Linked DNA regions of Homo sapiens: region 1 is linked to region 2. Evidence: fine-mapped expression QTL. A gene starts in region 2. The other region holds a variant in brackets. All regions are shown on one strand. Distances are between the middles of the regions.

Region 1 (10,007 bases), 230 kb after region 2:
TGAATCAAGCAGCATCAATGCTTTAATAAAAGCAAATTAAAAAACTCAAGATGTAGAAGCAGTAGCCGTATCAGCAACCATTCTTCTAGGGATTCTTTTAGGGAAGGGACATATACAATCCTTCCCCAAGAACTTTGATGCTACCCCTCTGAAGAGTTTAAGCACAAAACAGAGTGCTTGTATCATATAAGCAAGGACCTTTACAGAGGAAAACTGTCATATAAATGCATTTTTTTTTTGCTTTTAAAGGATACTGCAGTAGAAATATATTAAGCAAGGCCTCAAATATCCAACATTTTCCCATATTGCATTTTAAACCAAAGTTATAAGAACCTGCAGTCTTTATAAAGAACTCTCTTCACAGCACAGCTGTAGTTCACTTTAAATAAAAAATGTTCCCTTTGTGCTATATCCTTAGAAGTGAACATAATATACAGATAAATGTGAAGTTTAGATTCTGCATCAAGCCTTATTCAATCTCACCTTCTGATATAAACCTGGATACAGTCAAATTTGCAAAGCATTCACTTAATATTTTAGTTGAAGCAACCTTAAAATATATATGGATTGTCAGTGAAGGAGACCTTTGTGAGTTTCAGTGTATTTATAATTTATATGTAGGCATTTTATCAATTTCTGTACCTATATTTGTTAGGTATTTATTAAGCTGATAAATCTTTTGGTTCTAATAGATAAAAGATGTAAATCATTCTTGCCTTTCAGAAGCCCGTATTTATATAACTATGACTTTTATGCATTCATCTCCATAACTAGGATAATTATAAAATAAACAAATTAATGTCTCACATTAGTGGTATAGACAAATAATGTCACTGAAATTGGGAAGGGAGATAATTGTGAGATGTGGTAGTACTGAAAAGCCCTTATAGAGCACAGGCTTTGAAATATAAATAGCATAGATTAAATTTATATTAGAGAAGGGGAATATTATTTTAGGTGGTGCAGAACACTGAGAACAGGAAATGTGTACAAAATTTCAAGTGGGGCTAATGTGGGAGATAATAATTTTGAAAAGTAGATTGGAGTCTAATTAGAAAAAGAACTTTGAATATCAGATAACAAAATTTCAACTTGATTCTATATCCAATGCAGAAGCAATTTTTGACCAAAGATGAAACAAGATGAAACCTATAAAATTACTTTAGCAGAGACTTTTAAATGATGGAGCCAGAGGTGTAGAAGGCAGAAACCAATTTGGTATGAGGGAGTCTGAGCTCAGTTAAGATTGATTCAAGTAGTGTAATGACAATACCAGCGGAAATTTAAAAAAAAATGTGCCCCTGGGTCTAATGAAACTATAACATCTGGCATTTTATTTACTTTACACGAATTTACTACAATGATCCAGGGAATACTCTACGCATTGGCATTTTACTTGCATTTATGTTTCACCTTACCAAGAAAAAAAAAAACCTTGCAAAATGATTGAGACACTTACCTGAAATGTCTAGCATAACACAATAGGTGATGAAGGAAAATCAACTCTAAAATAACAAACACAGTTTGGAATCAAACAAATTAGAAAAATGATGAGATAAGTATATTTTTAAATGATTATTTAAAGATGGACTTATCAGAGCCTTTAAGATGCTATTGTGTGTAGTGAATCTCCACACCCTGAGTGCTTCTGGCTCGGAGACTGTATTATTTCCTTTGTCTAAGATGTTCTTTGCTTAGGCTCATTTCCTGACCTCGTTCATTTCATTCAGGACTTAAATGTAATCTTATTGTACAAACATCTCATAATTCCTTTGAATGTTGTACTTCAAATAAATGGTTTTATCATCTCATAAGAGTCATACACTACAGATAACTTCTTCCCTACTACAATTTTAGTGGCACCTCAAAAATGCTTGTTTAAGGTTTGTTTCTTCCAGTTTTTTGTAATAATCAATCATACACCTATGTAACAACATTTAGTACCTTTTTAGTGCCAAATTCCTCGGTTTAGCCTATATACATCTTATTCTTACTTTCATGGTTTGTAGTTGCTTGTATTTTCTATATACATATTTTCCAAGGAAATTATATCACATCTCCTAAGTTCCTGAAGCAACCAAGTTTTGTTTCTTGCTTATATCACTGAATATACTTACAACCATTAATTAAATGGAAGCAGGATGTGCTATACATACATTCTGTAATTCACCTAATGACAGTGAATGATTTAACAGGACTCCACTAATTCTGTTTTTTTTTTTTTTGGACCTTTAAAAATTTCTCTAAAAAGCCAAACTGCTTGCAGAGCTGTGAGTCCAAATGTATTCTTGATACCAAATGCTCTTTGAAACTTATGAAAATAATTGAAAGATAGTGATGGTGCTCTTTAGTTTTTACTGTATGGCAAACATCACATTTCTCTTTCACACTATTTGCTCAAGAAGCATAGTGATTCTGGAACAATATAGGAATAAGAAGGTCAAAATAGAAATATGTAGACTAAACATTCATGTAGTGCGGTAGTTACTCCAGAAGATATTCAGCCAGGGTTTTTCTGGAGATGAAAAAAGATAATGGTATACTGGTAGGTCTTATAACACTAATGAAAAGAAGATTAAAACATTTAGCAGATCTTTTCTCTTTCTTTTGTATCTATTATTCCAAAAATTTTCAGACAAGGGGAAATATATAAATATGGTGAATGCATTAGCCAGTTTATAGAGTTGAAGGTCTCTGTGTAATACTCTCTTATTTATACTTTATTCCACAGAAGAAAGCACCAACCTAACTTTTTATGTGTAATTCTTTGGCACTTTATTTATATCCCTAAACAATAATGTTTTTACTTAATATCATTTGTGAAATTCATCAATGATTATAGGTCATTTAGTTGCACTCCTATATGGTATTTTATTATGTAAATATGGTATATTTTTCTTTTTTGAAGCAGGGTCTCGCTCTGTCACCCAGGAGGGAGTGCTGTGGTACAATCATGGCTCATTGCAGTCTAATCTTCCTGAGCTCAAGCAATCCTCCTCCATCATTTTTTTATTTTTTCGTAGAGACAAGGTCTCACTATGTTGCCCAAGTCTCAAGCCCCTGGGCTCAAGCAATCCTCTCACCTAGGCCTCCTAAAGTGCTGGGATACAGGTGTGAGCCATTATTCCCAGCCAAATATGGTATAATTTATAATGACTATTATAAAATTACAACTATGCATCTCACCTTGTTCAAGAGTCTCTCCAAACTACAAACCTAAAAGTGTGATTTCATAGGCCATATGCACTTTTTATTTACCAGAGAGTGTACAGTCAATTTTCTCTCTAAGGAGGATATACCAAATATATTCCTGTCAGCAATGTAATTTTAATGTATCCATGCTTTTGAATGATGAAACTTTTTTTCAACAAATCCAGTATAAAACTATACATTACTGTGGTTTTAACTTGGATCTTCTTTGTTATTAGTGAAATTAATCTTTTCATATTTTTGGGTTTGGGGGCAGTGTCTTTCACTTTTTTGCTCAAATTCCACTGCATTTTTATATTTTTCTTATTAATTTGGAGATAGTGTTTATAAAGTCTATGCACTAAATCTTTGTCCATTACATTGAACATCATCCAATGTACCTGGAATGTAAAATTCAATGTAGGATCTGTTGCAACATTTTTTTTTCTCTGTCTGCCTTGTTATTGTCACATTTTATAAATAGAAATTTTTAATCCTTGTGCAGCAAAATGTACCTATCTTTCTTTCGTGGTTACTGGTTCTTGTATCTTAAGAAATCCTTTCCTAACAAAAGCCATTGTACAATTTTTCTGTAAATTTTGTTTTTATTAATATTTTAATCAATCTGTAATTTTGATACATGTGTGTCGGTGTGTATGTGTGTAGTGCAAGGTAAGAAGCTCGTCTATTATATTTTCTTTTTCCTTTTGAGCAACATTTACTCATGTCTTTTTTTCTTGATCATTGTCAAAATTCATTTATTATGGTAGTCTTTATAAAAAAATAAAGTTATGGTTTTATTTCTAATATCTGCTTTTATCTTCATTTTTCCAGTTCTTCCATTTTATTTGGATTTATTTCATAGCTCACTGCAGTCTTTAATCTTAGGGTCAAGGGCTCCTCCCACATCAGCCTCCTGCACACCAAAGGCTACAGGTGTATCACCATGCAGCCAATTTCTTAAATTTTTAAAATTTTTGTAGAGACAGGGTCTCACTATGTTGCCCAGTTTGGTCTCCACCTTATGACCTCAAGTTATCCTCCCACCTTGGCTTCCCAAAGTGCTGGGATTATGGGTGTGCGCCCCCAAACTTGGGCTGTTTCTAAGTGCTTTGGCTTAATGTTTATCTCACAATTTTATTCAATGCAAGTGGTTAAGGTGTGTGTTTTCTTTCACTTTAGTTATTTTTCAGAGTTTTGCTATATATAATTGTATAGTTCAAAATATTTCCTGTCATAAGACTTATTCTTTAGAGTGTGTTTTTAAATTTCCAGTTGTTCTTTTTAAATTGCTTGTATTATTTTCTAAATTATTATATTCTTCTTAGAGAGTGTTCTGCATTGTTCCAAGTGTACTTGAGAGGAATACGTGTTCATAATTGTTAGGTAAAGTTCCTTTTTTTTTTTTTTTGCTTTGCTTTTTTATGTTCTATGTAATTTCTTCATTTTGATTTTCCAGTTCACTAATTTCATCTTCAGCTGGGTCGCACACATTTTATGTATTCATTACATTTTAATTTCCAAAATTATAGATTTTATTACTACAAATTCTCTTTTGTTCTTTTCAGATCCATCTGCTTATGTTTATAGTTTCTTCTTTTTTATGTCTATATTTAATTTATGTTTAATATTTTTTCTGATGTTCCCAATTATATGATATTTTTGCAGGTTTAATTACACTATCTGATGTTTCTGATGACTCCTTTCATAGTGGGCTGTTTCTTTATGTTCTCTGTAATTTTGGGTTGTGAATCCATGTTTCATGGGACTTTGTGTAAATTCTTTGAGACCTGGCATGTAGGTATATCCCTTGAGAAAAGATTTCCTTTAACTTCTGCCACATCTCTGGGGGCTACTAAATTGTAACCACTATAATTTATTTATTTTTCTAATTTTATGTACTTAGTAGGTAATATAAATGCAAACTTCAAGCTTGCAG[A/C]AGAGTAGTACTATGGGTTTTAATTCAGATAATTTTTTTTTCATGTTGCAGATTACACAGACTTTTTCCTTGTCAGCTTATTTAAGGCAATAAATAGATTTGTTTCTCAATCCTCCATTGCACTGTGACTCTGGTCTTTCAAGAGCCCCAGGGACCTCAGTGCTTTATTCTCCTTGCATAGGTGCAGTGCTTTTTTTTTGTTTAGTTTTTGTTTTTATTTTGACTCTGAGTGAACTTTAGAGGCCAAGGTTCTAGATTTCTGAGATTTGTAATGACCCATGGGGCAGATGCAGGTTCAGTTCAAAATGACCACTCTGGTTTCCTGACTCTTCTTTGATTTTGCCCCCTGGGCATTTTTTCTCTTATTTTCCTATGAACTCAACTGTGTATCTGAAAGATTGTTATATTTCTAAATAGTTTATAAAGGAAAAATATTTTTTAGAAGAGTAACCTGCCATAATACTGGTGGAAAAACACCTCTCTTTTAAAAATTCTCTCAATCTGGGCTTTAGACCTAACATTTATTTATGAGAATAAAATAAAAACATTTTTACTGTAATACAAATTTTTTTCTTTGTGGTATCTACAACTTTTAATTTTGTATTGAATAATTTTATCAATAATTTATTTTTTATGTAATACAAATGTTAATAACAACAATACAATAATAGCAAATCTACCATGCTTCCAAGCTGATAGGTTCCTCCCTTTGAACAAACAAATAAACAAATAATTTATTAATTCATTATGTTTTCTTTATTATCTATTTTGATCTCTCTAGAATCAAGGATAAGTTACCAGAATATTATAAATTTACTTTCTTAGGAAATAATCTTCCTCTCCAATAATTTGCTTATATGCTCTGTTAATGATTGATTTTCTAATTGCATTTGTCTGCTTGATGTACTTCTGAGATGATTTTACTCTTACATCCACCAAGTTGTATAGTAAATCTACCTTAAGTAACATCTTCAATATTAGTTAATCAAATGCCTAATTGGATTCTGTACCTAACACCTAATAAACTAATAAAAGTAAGATTGGCAATGTTGCAAATGATAAGAATTAAACTGGTTTCATTTGCTTATTTTTTTAAAGACCACTAGTATAACTATTTTTTATTTCCTTGATTTTAGACAGTCTAGCCAATGTGACAAAGAGGTGGAAGTAAAAACTTCCCATCTTCAGGCATGAAAAAATTTTACTGGACAGAGTGACCCTTTTCAGCCCTTAACCTACTTAACAAATCATAAAGATGCTTGGAGTATTATATTTGACTATCAATTATTCTACCAGTATATTTCATGTAAGAAATCTAAAAGTATGTTGATTTAGAGGTATAGCGTTAATTCAAATGGACATCTATTTTAGTGGTAGAGGGAAAAATATCAAGTTGAGTTAGTAGAAAAAAGTCATACAAATGAAATCAAAGGAAACAATACAGGTCAACCAAAATATTATAAGGAAAGGGCAAAGTAAATTACCCCAAAATTATCTATTACTATTGAAATAATAGAACAAACAAATCATCAGTTAGCCAAGTAATGTTAAGGTTGTAGTTAATGCTAAAGTAAGCAGCTACAACTTTTAGTTGACTCAGCAATTGGGCTCCTCACTATTTCAAATATATTATAAGAAGAATACACACATAAAACTGAGGAATATGATTGCTTCTACCGCTTAGGGCAAGCATTGCCAAATGGTGGCTCATGAGAAAAATCTAGCCTACTGCTTGTTTTTGTAAATAAAGGCTTTTTGAAACACAGCCACTCTCATTCATTTATGTATTGTCTATTGAAGCTTTCACATTACAGTGGCTGAATTGGATAGTTGTGACAGAGACCACCTGGCATGCAAAGTGTAAAATATTTACTATTTAGTCCTTTGCAGAAAATGTTTGCCAACTTCTGGCTTAGGGAAAGCCTGTGCAAGAGTTTGGGAAGATTTTTACTTTTAGGTGAAGACAAGTTATTTATAAAATAGTTTAATTATACTGATTTGATAAAAAATGATTTGATGGCTACTAACACTTTTTGAATTTATTGTTGATAATAAACATTTAGTCTTGTGTTCTCCACATTAACATTATTGTCATGGGGGAAGTCTGTCCTCAAAAAGCGGGGAGTTATGAGGGGTAGTTATGTTATTTGGCTCTAATGTCATAAGCTGGCTTCAAGTTCTGTTAGGCTGGACAATATTTAAACTGACACATATGGAAAACTTTTGCATCTTCTTCAGGAAATTCCCCTTTGCTGGGGCCATCTCATCTGCATTTCTTTTGATGCAAACGATATCCCATCAGCTCATTTTTTAGTGTTTTGTAGTATAGTCAGTAGATCTCTACAATGCTGAGTTTCACATCTTCCTTTTTGTACAGGATCAAATACAACCCATGCCACTGTGCTCATTCATATGGCTACAATTGGTCTATTCATTATTTTCCACAACATAATGGCAGCAGCAACTTCTACTTCACCTCTGCCATCATTTAAGGCATCTCTAGCTTTTGAGATTTTCCAAATGAGATTCAGGAGACAAATGTTTCTTGAGTTAATTCTTTCTTCCTAGAAGAAAGCCATTCTTTCTTCCTAGGCTTTTGGTGAGAGGCTAATGGCCCTACCCTTTTTTCTTCAGGGAGTAGGGCTCACAGCACAGTTCACAAGAAAGACATCCTCTTTCCAAAATAACCTCCTTACCCTCAATCACTTTATACCCTTGGTGTATGTGAGGAGTTTAATAGTATTCTACTAGTTCTTGAAAAATATTTTTGAAAGTTATACATAATAATCTATCTCAATAAGTCTGGTAGCTGATATCTATCAAATTGTGGTGGCTCTGACAAAAATGGATGAGGCTCATTTAAACATACCATTTCATTGACTTAACTATGTGGCACAGCAAGTGTCAATCAAGAGCTTCAATTTATCCCCATGGCTGCCGCTGATTAGTTAGGATGTACCTCTGACCTGGCTATGTTCTTCTTTGAAAAGTACCTATGATATAGTTTTATCTTGAGGATTTAGTGAGATAACATATGTGAAAACTTCTTCTGTAGTGCTCAGTAAAGAGAACAGATTTTAAAAATACACACTTCCTTCCCTAATTCACATAATGATCTATACAGCATTTTATCAGAAGTCGCAAATTCACAACTTGTAGTCTGAATTCTCTGTGTAATTATACCTAGCTGTAGCATAGACTTGAAATTCAGTTTTTAGAAGGTCTTAACATTCCAGGTCACCCATTTCTACCAACATGCCTCATACATTTTCTTTATCTGTCTAACCCAGATAGACATTTACACTTGAAAATTGTGTCCTATAAAATAAGATTCAAAATTCCTTTTCTCTCTTTTCTCTAATAAAATCACCATAGCATCGGACTTAAATACATAGCTTGGGTCCCTGAAATGCTACAGTGACAACCTGCTCCTGGCTCCTCGTGGCCTCATTTCTTAACTCCATCTTTTACTCTGCTCTGGCCACATTGGCCCCTGCTATTATGTGAACACAAAAAGGCAGCACGACTTCAGGATTTTTCAATTGCTAGTCCTTCTCAATAGAACACATTTGCCCCAGATATCTGCCTAGTTTGACCCAACACTACTTTAAGTTCTTGCTGAAACAGAAGCATTGCATCCATGGAGAGGCTTCTCTGACCACACTATTTAGTATAATTCTTGCTGCTATGCTCTCTCTCAATAAGCTGCTTTATTTTTCTTTATACTAGTTATTATGACTTTGACTTATGTTCACTTATTTATTTATTATTGCCTATGGTCCCCAGTAGAACATAGTTCTAGAAAAACCAGCTCTTATGGCCAGCACCTGGAACAGTTCATGGTACCTTCTAAGCACTCAATGTATATTTGTTCATAAACCATAATTAGGAACACAGTAGTAAATACTATAGAACCAGTTAGGGTATATGGTGACTATAATGGTGTGGCAGTGGTGGAGGGGCTTTAATTTATGAGTCTGTATTTAAGTAATATAAATTCAAAAGATGAGTCCTGGACATAGTTACCTCCTTAAATTTTAATGAGGCTTAAAGTAAGGAAAAGTAGAAAACTTTTAACTTCTGTTATACTTCATTGTATATGTCAACTTGGTAGAGCCATAGATTTTGGTCAAACATTGTTCTGGATGTTTCTATGAGACTGTTTTTTGGGTGAGATTGGTAAACTTTAAATACAGCAGATTGTCCTCCACAATACGGGAACTCTAGTCCGCCCTGCAGATTTTAGACGTGCCAGTCACCATAATTACGTGAGCCAATACCTAAATCTCTCTCTCTCTCATATATATGGGTGTGTGTATATATATGTATTATATATTATATAATATATAATACGTATTATATAATATATTATATATAATACGTATTATATATAATACGTATTATATAATATATATATAATACATATTATATATATTATATAATATATAATACATAATATATATTATATAATATATAATATATATATATATATATATTATATATATGACAGAAGCTAGGAAGAGGCATCAAAAGCACACACACACAGAACCTATATATATATATATGTATATACACACACATATATACACACATATATAGATTCACACACACACACATATATATGTTCTCTCTATATATATATGTTCTATATATATGTCATATATACGTTTTATATGTGTGTGTGTGTGTGTATATATATATATATGTATATACGTTCTATTTCTCTGGAAAACTCTAATACAGCTTCCAAAACGAAGCCATCAATTTAAATACCCAGCACTAACATTTAAGCCAAAAATGTCATATATTTATGCTCTGTAGCTAATATGAAATTTAACTACATTGGAAGACAGCCTGCAGATGATGAAAGAAATACAGG
Region 2 (10,007 bases):
ATCATTTCTGCCCAAAGCCATGGAACCCCATTTTAAAAGAAAAAAACTCTAGGCTCTCATTAATATTATCTCTGAGTATTCCCAGACTTTCAACCAAAGAACCCTTAAAAGCATTCCTAAGACACCGTCATCTTTCTTTAAATGGTACTTTGTACATGAATAGCCCCTAGTTTCAGCAAATTATAGTCTACTGTCCATGAGTTTCTAAACCTTTTTGAAAAATTTAGATAATTTCGGAATATATATACACACAAATATATGCATATGTATATACACACACATATCCTTAAATTCTAGCTGAAATTATTATGTATATTGCCATATACTTTGTCTCTTTTTAAATGGCTTTGGTCAATTTCAGTGAAAAAATTTCAGCTAAAATCAGCCACGTCATGTATTGAACTTTTGGTACAGATATATTTATGATAAATAAATTATTTAAGAATTTTAAAATATCACAACTACATCAGATATTTACTTTTTAAAAATATTATATTTTCTGCAGAATGCATGCAAGACGCATACCTACATTACACAATGGCAGAAAGTCTAACTTTGGTATGGGTTTTTGGTAATATTAGACAAAGATTTGTTCCATTATATAATCAAACTGTTTTTATTTCTTGTTCCCCCCAAATTACTTAATTATTACCATTAGGAAAATAAATATTATGTTTCAATTTGGAATTAGTGATAGCTCTTCTTGGTTGTTGCACAAACTGGAAATCATAAGAACTATATTTCAGGCTCGTATAATTGTCTGCATTAAGTGTGTGTTCTTTAAGATTAGATGGCTCTAACTGTTTTGGGAATTTTCTCAAAATCAACTTAATATACTGACATCAAAAGTGATGAACTGATATTATGTTAATGGTGTTATTAGGCTAACAGGAAGTTCAAATTAACTTTCAGATTTCTAACATATTCTACATTTTATTTTATTAATCTTCCAGCTCATCTTGCATATAATTAATACAAGCATATAATTAATACTATTTTTTAGTTTCAATTTCAGTCTAATATGCAAATCGTATAAATACAATGTTATTCATTTTCATATTTGTTGATTAGAACTATCTGATAATTTGACCAGATGAAATAACTAATATTCTCCATTATGAAATGAAGTTCAAAACTACTCAGCAACAACTCTCAATCATGTGGTATTTTTGTGAAATTAGTATTTTAGGATTTTCCCTATATATTAGCAGTCTTCAATTCTGACAAAAATACCTCGAGGCATAATTATCATATTTACTCTGAAACATTAATGAGATTTACTAAAATATCCTGTCAAAGGGAGAAAAAACAAAGATTGTATGAAATTGTGACATTAGACTATTTTGTGGGATAACAAAGTAAGAATTTCCTATAATATATCATGTAAGGTCTCTCCCCAATCCACTCACTATATATTGGAATTAGTTCTGATTTCCAATACACAGATATTGAATTTTTTAGAAGTATTTGAAAAACTACTCATATCCATATTTTTAGATGTTATTTCTATAATTAACATTTGTAAAGAGTCATGAAAATAAATGTCACAAACCAAGCCTAAATTTTCACATATTCCTAAGACAGTGGAGAAATGAGAAAACAAAATCTTAATTTTCTCACATGAAGGCAGCTGGCTTCCTTTTTGTACATCTTTTCATGTCTAAACTTGTTAATTCAGTTGTACATACATGTGAGGTAATTAAGTGATTGTCCCTTTGTCCTTGTAACCAAAAGGTGGCACCTCTAAAAACCAGAGTTAGCTTTCAACAGAGACACTATTTTTTTTTTTTTTTCATTTAAATGTCAAAGCCCTAGAAAGAAAATCGTTTTTCGTGACTTGGTAATTCTATTTAGGGAGAGATCATTGCCTCAAATGCAAAATGGTTTGGAAAATAGTACACATTACACTGATGGCAAATGAATTCAGCTCTTCTCTAAGTTGGTGTGTAAACTTATATATTAAACGTACGTAGTGAAAAAATACTCTCTGAGATACAAAATTAGTGTGGAAGGTCAGACACAGTTAAGATAGAAGATTCTCTTTTCTTATATCAAGTGGAGTTCTAGACAAAAAAAAGTAAGACTCTGCATTTCCCCTGATAAATAAAAAGAAGTGTTTTGTATACTAACATCTGTGGATTTCTCTGTGTTCAGGTAAGACCCACTTGGAATGCTTTCCTATTACATCAAACGAGGCATTTCTCTATACCTCCTTCCATCTGACAGTACTATCGCTTAGCTGTCCCTGAAGAATAATAAGAAAAGAAAGCTTATATCCCCAATGATGGAATTAGAGACTGCTGAAGCTGCTGTAAAGGCTCTGTCCAACAAGTACCATTTACTTGACCTATTATGCAGGCAGCCAGGGGCATGTTGGTGTTTTGATATATTTTTCTTTCTTTTAACAAGACGTTACAAAAATGTTTTCCCCTTCAGGATTTTTAAAATTTAGGGTATCTTTCTAGCATTACTTTCTAAACTTAGTTCCAGTACAGGAGGATTCTTGTCCAACTGAGCCTCCATGTGCCTTCTAAAGGGAGTGCTGAAATTGTATAAACATCATGTTTACATCCATTAAATATTGTCCTATTAAAAGAAAATAAAGCCAGGCATAAGTTTGGTATCCAGACAATAAAATGCAAATAGTACAAAGGTAGAATAAAGTGAAAATTCTACACAAATGTAGCTTCCATACAAAAGTTAAACAGTTGCTTTATTTCACGAAAGGGTTAATACTGGAGAAAGTGAATATCAACATGTACACAAAGCTAACTAGAAGATTAGCTTTCTCAAAGTAGAAATCCAAGCCTCCCTATAAAATTGTTGTCCCTTGCAAATGTTTTGAAACTTTACATTTTTTGATCCCCCAACAACAGGCCATACCAAGAAACCTCAGGAAAGTAATAATCTATTTTAATTGTTTTTTTTTTTTTGTTACTCAAGAAAGCTTTCAAAGTTCAGATATTAACACTGATGTGCAATACCAAATTGTTAGCCCCACAGGACAGATGGAAACAGGAAAAGTCAGATGGTTGGCACTCAAAAGCAAAAGCAATTAAGCAGTTGAAAGTGGGTTGGATTGTCGGTTTATTTTTGTTCCATTTGAACGAATCAAGTGAGAGACATAGACTCTTGCAAGGAGGAAATCAAGTCAAACTTGACGCTTCCTCTCTCTGACAGCCCAAGCTGGACTGGTTGTCTACTCCCCTTATTCAGTTTAATTGCTTTATGTGCTCTGATTTTCGCAGAGCTTGTATTCTATCTTGTTTACGTTCCCCCCCCCCCCCATATCCCTCTCCCCAACAGAAAGAAATCTTTCTCCTTTCTTCACTCCCCCTCTTTCCTCTAAGAAAGGCAATCCTCTCCAGGAGGAGAAAGAAACGCTGTGCGTGCTTAGGGTGGGAGGAGGGCGAGAGGGGAGGTGTGGGAGAGAAAGAGAGAAAAGATTGAGATTGGGGGTGGGGGACGGAGGAGAGAGAACAAGAGAAGGAAAGAGGAAGCAAGAAGATGGGGGATGCCCAACATCAACTCCAGGCTCTAAATCACGGGCGCTGTGCAAAGTGCTTTTCCAGGAGATGCACATGTAGTCTCATATTTCTCACAATAGGCCACCCGGGGATCCCTCCCTAGGTCTCAGACTCCCACCACTAAAACCCAAGTGTATCGAGAAGAAAATCTTTGGGATGGATTCGAGCAGATAGGCACCGCCGAGGTGGCCGCGCCGCCAGTCCCGCTTCCTTACCTGGAGGGCGGACCGGGAGGTGGTGCCGGGTCTCGGTCCCCAGTGCTCTCCCCGCGTGGACCGGCGCGAGGCACACGCGTACTCTCGCTGCCTCCGCTCTTGGAGGGGCAGCCTGCAACACAAAAGGGGTGTGTGGGTGTGGGTGTGTGGGAGGTTTTCCAGGGCCACCAGCTGGTCCCACGTGGTCGCCCCCACCCTACACACACCCCTTCGGGGCGCCAAGCCCCCCTCTCGGCTGAGCACCACCCTGGGGACTTGCCCGGGGTGCAGCCTCAAGTTGCCGCTGCTAACTGCTGCTGCCGCTGCCGCTGCTGCAGGAGGAGGTGGAAAGACACTGGGGGCAGTACTCGGTCTAGAGCATCCCCACACTGCAGCTTCTCCAGGAATCCCTCCAGTGAGGAGGCGGCCGCCCATCATCTCCGAGCCCCAGCATCCTGATTGGCTCCACCTCGGGTACGCTGCGCCAAGGAGCCAATCCCCGCGCACTAATAATAGGTGGATCCGTTCAGCCAACATCGCCCATCCCAGTTCTGTTAGTGTCTCTCCATCCCCACAGCGGACAGGGACCTGGGAAGCGGGGTGGAGGCGGGTTGGGGGAGGGGGTGAAGTAAGAGGGGAACAGATCCCAAGGAGACACAATCAAGGGCGTCTGATAAAACCTCTAGGTAGACTCAGGAATGCCCCACAAGCTGTTCAGCAAGCAGTATGCACAGGAGAAAGAGAGCATAATACAAAGCTTTTTTTTTTTTTTTTTTACTCTCAATCAAAACCTACCCTGATACTGAGCATGCCCAGACTGCAACAGCGACCTAGGAGTTTCGATGTGTGTGGGTTCGCCAGCTGTGGGTTTTTGAAAAGCTGGGACCGGGGACAGGAGAGGTAGAAGTTTGTCTTTGGCCATTTAACCCGGCGGAGTTGTGAAAGCTGGGTAGGGTGGGGATGTGAAAGGGTTCCGCACAAGTGTCCTCAAACTGAGCCGCGGGGAGGTGGCCCACCTGGCTGCCGGAGGCTCATCATGCTGTTCTTCTGGGGTTCCGGGTTGGAAGCGGGGGCGGGATAAGCTGAGCTTTGCTGGAAGCCTGGGGACTTCCCGCGAAGGGTGCGGTGGAGCCGAGATGCGGGAGAAGCAGCTCCGTCCCATAGGTGGGGCCGGGAGCGCGACTCCACCCATCAGCGGCGGCTGCCAGGCCGTGGAGAGTGCACTGGGAGTTTCCATTGCAGCGACCAATAAGTTTGTACACTTGGGTCAAGTGCAACATTGTTGGAGATGCTTTTTTATTTTTTCATTTTTATTTTTTGCCACCTCCCTCCCCCATCTCTCTCGACCCCTTGCCAGAGCAGTGACGACTAAAGCATAGATTCTCTCCCTGCTTCCTCTCTTCCCAGCTGAACCGTTCTGCTCGGAAGTAAGAAGCTTTTCTCTTGTGAGGGCGGTGGTGACCTGATTGTCTCTAAGCTCTCAGGCAATTTATAGCTTGGTAATACCGAAATACCGAACAGGAAGGCTCAGCGGGTGGGGGAAGGGACCGCGCGCCAGGCTAGGGGCGGGAGCGGAGCCCAGCTGGGAGAGGGGCCCGTCCATTATCTGCTCCACAGGTGAAAGGATTTCAAAACGGAGAGAACTATTTCCCTTTCTCCCTCCCTCAACCTCGTTTAAAGGCCTTTGAACCTCTTATTTGTTTTATTTAGAAATCCTAGCATTTTGTGTAAACTTGATCAATAGCTACAAATGAGAACTCTCCTAATTGGGTTCTTTATTTTACTGAGAAGATTATCTTGGCATCTCAGGTAGGGAAATAAATAGCTATCTCAATTCCCCAAACCCATCCACTTTGAACTGGAGTTTTATTAACATTGGTGTGCAAAGGTAAATGTAGCAAGAATTCAATTAACAGTAACACATTTCTTCAAGTTTTTAATTAAATCTCTTCTACTTATGTAATGTTTAAGATTAAGATCCTTATTCTAAGTATACGGGAAAAGAAGGCAACGTGATATAAATATATCCTTCTAAGTGACAAACACTTGTATTTGGGCTATGCTTGAATAATAGGAAGTTTAACATTAGAGGTAGAAGTGTGAAAATAATGCACCCCAGACTTGTGACTTCATGTAAATATTCACTTTCCATTTTCCAAAATAGTCTCCAAACCTTATTTTAAAATCATTTCATAGTTGGAGAAATAAGATAAAAGAATTTGGTCTAAATTTTATTTCAGTTATTTAGTGAAGGAGAGGAGGAGGAGAAGACAGAGAAGGAAGAAAAACGACAGGATAAAAAGTAGAAGAAGTTGGAGGAGGAGGAAGGGGAGGAGAAGGAGGATGGTGAGGTGGAGGAAAAGGAGAAGAAGGAGGAAGAGAAGACGAAGAAGAATTAAGTAACCCTGTAATTTTGTTGTCCAATAAATATCTTTGGATGAGAAGATTATTATAATATCCACTTAATATAGATCTTTATTCTAAATATATGCCTAGCATACTTTCTAGATTCCAGTGATTAAAACTGGCACATTTATCCTATTTACCAATAGCTGCATGTAGAAAAAAAGTATGCTTATTTTAGAATAAATTAGTCAATAGAATACAAATACAGATTTTAAAATTTTTGCTCCAGACACTGATTTTGTCATTAATATTTTAGTCAATTTCTTTTCCTGTTTACTTCACATCTTACCTAGCAATCTTTCTATTTCAGTGGCCAGAATCCTTGGCAACATGAATGGTATCAGAAGTTTGTAACCCAATGTTCCTTGAGGGAGACTGCAGGTTAAAATAAGAAATGGGCTTTACATGTATATTGTGCTTAACTTTAGAATTGATAACATTTTCTGTACATAAATAATAAGAAGACTCTATTTATATGGTGACTGTAGCTATACTAAGATTTTAACTCTCCCTCCTATTCCTAAATTCTCTCCAAGCTCTTGGGAATGTGTTGAAGACGTCCTCCTGGATCTACTGGGCTGACACAACATTATACTTTGCCGCAAGTGTGTATCATCTCTTTGCCTATTGAAGCAGACTCATTTTTATTAAAAGGAAGATCGGGTCAATTGTTCTGTAGAGACAAAGAGAGAGCTCTTTGTCACTCTTATCATTCCATTTCTTAAGTACTTTTACATCTAGAGTACTTTTGCTGTTGAGAATTAACTTATCCCCTGATTGTATGGTATTTTAAAAATATTATTTTCAGAACTTTTACAAAATCTGTTTAATGTTTTGTTTCCTCTTTCTTCGTTAAAAAAGTGTTATTAATTTTTCTTCACATTTTGCTCTGATCAAGATCTCATTTTCAATATTTTCTTTATTCCTTTTTTATTGGATTCATCTATTTACTACTTTCATGCTTCCTTTGCCATCTATTTTAGGCTACAGGATCAGAATAGAAACTAAATTGGATTGGGGCACTGAGGAGGAAAGTGTGTCTTATGGCAAGAGTGGGAATTAGGGACATTAGAACTAGAAATTCATTAAGTGGAAACTTAGCCAAGGTTTCTGTAAACCACAGAAAGAATACTTAACGTGAGAGAGGTATCAAGAAAATTCTGCAGGTTGTTGGAAAGGCCAGAATTACCTGGTTGATCAATGATACTAAAGAGTTACATTTAATCCGGCTGGGCGCGGTGGCTCACGCCTGTAATCCCAGCACTTTGGGAGGCCGAGGTGGGCGGATCACGAGGTCAGGAGATGGAGACCATCTGGCTAACACAGTGAAACCCCGTCTCTACTAAAAATACAAAAAATTAGCCCGTCGTGGTGGCGGGCGCCTGTAGTCCCAGCTACTCAGGAGGCTGAGGCAGGAGAATGGCGTGAACCCGAGAGGCGGAGCTTGCAGTGAGCCGAGATCCCGCCACTGCACTTCAGCCAGGGTGACAAGTGCGAGACTGTCTCAAAATAAATAAATAATAAAAAAAGAGTTACATTTAATTAAGACTCATACATCATTAAACTTTATATCTTTAGTAGCCACAGTAGTTGTCTGGTAAAAGCTATTTATAAATATCATTACCCAGGATTGTTTCTTTAAAAAAGAAAAATAATTGACTTCTCTAAATTTTTCTATTTTTTTGTTTATTTTTTATATAGATGCAGATCTTACTATTCTTTTCACTTTATATCTGTGTTTCTCAAGATACTGACTTTTTGGTCTCTTTGCAGGACAGATAATTAATTAAATGTTTTCTGGTGTCAGAATTTGGGTAGAATTCCAGCTTCACCACTAATTGGCTATGCCACCTTGAAAAATGTACAAAACCCCTCCAAGTCTCAGTTTTGTCATCTAAAATATGTACATAAGAATACAACATTTATCATTAGGTTTTTTTTCTGGATTAAAAAAAGCAGTGCACATAAAGTGCTAGTTCCAAGCACATAGCAAGAACTTAATGACTATTATTATCATTTTATCATTATCATTGCTGCTACTTCTGCTACTACTATTTTTTTTTTCCAGATTTCTGGGTTATTGGGTTTCCTCCCATCATCTCATCCATTTAAGCCAATAGTGAGCCATAGACTCCTCACCTATGAGCATTAAAGGTAGAAGGGTGTTAATTCATGTTATAAGAACTTTTATTTATTTTTTGATGGGAGGAGTCAGTGTCTAACTCTGTAGCCCATGCTAGAGCGCAGTGACTCAATCATGGCTCACTGCATCCTCCAATTCCTAGGCTCAGGTGATTCTCTCAGCTTAGTCTCTTTAGTAGCTGGGACTACAGGTGCATGCCACAATGTTGGGCTAATTTTTTTTTTCTTTCTTTCTTTTTTTTTTTTTTTTTTTGCCATATTGCCCAGGCTGGTCTTGAACTCCTGGGCTCAAGTGATCCTTCCACCTTGACCTCCCAAAGTGCTGAGATTACACGTATGAGTCACCGCGCCTGGATACAGAACTTTTTTAATACGTAAAATGACAACAGTCATCTGTCTTGCATGTAGTAGTCTTACACTGTAATCATCTACGAGATGAATAATTTAGTTTTTAGGGATGGATACTTAAGCTTTTTTTTCATAAAAACATTTGTTTATATTATTCTTTCAAATTAAGAAATATCCAATTCTGGTGGCAAAAAAAAAAATGATGAACACTATTTTGTTTTGTTTTGTTTTGTTTTCTAGAAAATGCTCTTGAAGACAGTAGAGCCATCATTTTTATTTCTCTTCCATTCATCTTTCTCAAGATCATTTGTCCTGGGATTACTGCTAGTGATTTTGTAACCAATTGGTAAAGAAAAAACATGAAGGCTCCTTGTATCAGAATTAGATTAGAAATTAGCTGTGTTGATTTTTATACTGAACATCCATGGAATTTAATAAAGAGACTCTAGAAATGGGAGAAGAAAAAAAATGAATACTGATGGGAGTCAAGTCTCTGGAGCAGAGAGTTAGAGCCCCATAATTGAACGATGAAACTTCACAATTTCCAAAGAAAGGAAAACAAAGAGCTAGTAGTTTTCTATGTGGCTTTACAAAAGCCTTTTCTTAAAGATGTGGCTAAGAAAGTATTGGAAATGAAAAGGAGGACAGTTACTCAAAAAGTAATATACTGTGTCAGGCTGTTGAGGTTAGCAAGGAAAATATCATTTAGGTGAATCTATCTCAGGGGCAAAATAAAAGTAGTTTGAGCTAATGTTAGCTAAAGGTCTTAGAAAGGAAACAAATGATATATGTTTCAAATACTCTATGATAAAAGGAATATACCGTGGTGAAAACTAGTTTGCTAATAAAGCAAGGGCAACATTAAAGTTTACATTAATTCCCTTTGAAATCAGAGGAAGGATTTCTATCTAATTGAACACACAGAGAATTATAGTTCAGCTGCTTCATTCAACTTATTTGAAAAGTGTGTCCAGAGAGACTAATCGAGTTACCAAAAGCCATAGAGGGTTGAGTGTGAGTGGGAGAAGAGTCTGTGTTTTCAACAAAATAAAACTATTTTAATAATACAATTGTGAAGAGAAGGATGGTAGACAATCAAAACCTCTACTTTGAAATTTGATTCTGCAGTGGTTCTTAGTGTTCTGATAAGGGCTGAAAAATACATTTGATCCTTTCCGGGACACTTCTGGATGGCTTTTTGCAGAGCGGACCATATGGGTTTGCTTCAATATTTTATGCAATCTGTACTACTTGTTCCTAGTTCACCTAATACTAAATAAAGCACCATAAATTGGTGGACTCCTAAAGGAAGGTTCATTTATTGGACATTGAACTAATAAAAAGGGTAAGGACACCAGGTTTTCTGCCTCTGGCCCCAGCAGAAATGTCT

Evidence for each region. PIP is the estimated chance that this variant, and not a neighbour inherited with it, causes the effect.
Region 1: its variant is the best candidate, but not a certain one, in a credible set for the expression of SYT1 in T cells (TOPMed, PIP 0.51).

Annotation. Positions count from the first base shown.
Region 1 is chr12:78,625,610-78,635,616 of GRCh38, reverse strand. No RefSeq gene overlaps it. Among named protein-coding and RNA genes, the nearest start is that of SYT1, 230 kb to the left of the region's middle. The variant A/C (reference allele first, on the strand shown) is at 5,129.
Region 2 is chr12:78,858,845-78,868,851 of GRCh38, reverse strand. SYT1 (synaptotagmin 1) reads right to left here and starts at 4,078. Exons shown (of 11, transcript NM_005639.3): 1 at 3,743-4,078. RefSeq lists a silencer at 5,235-5,294.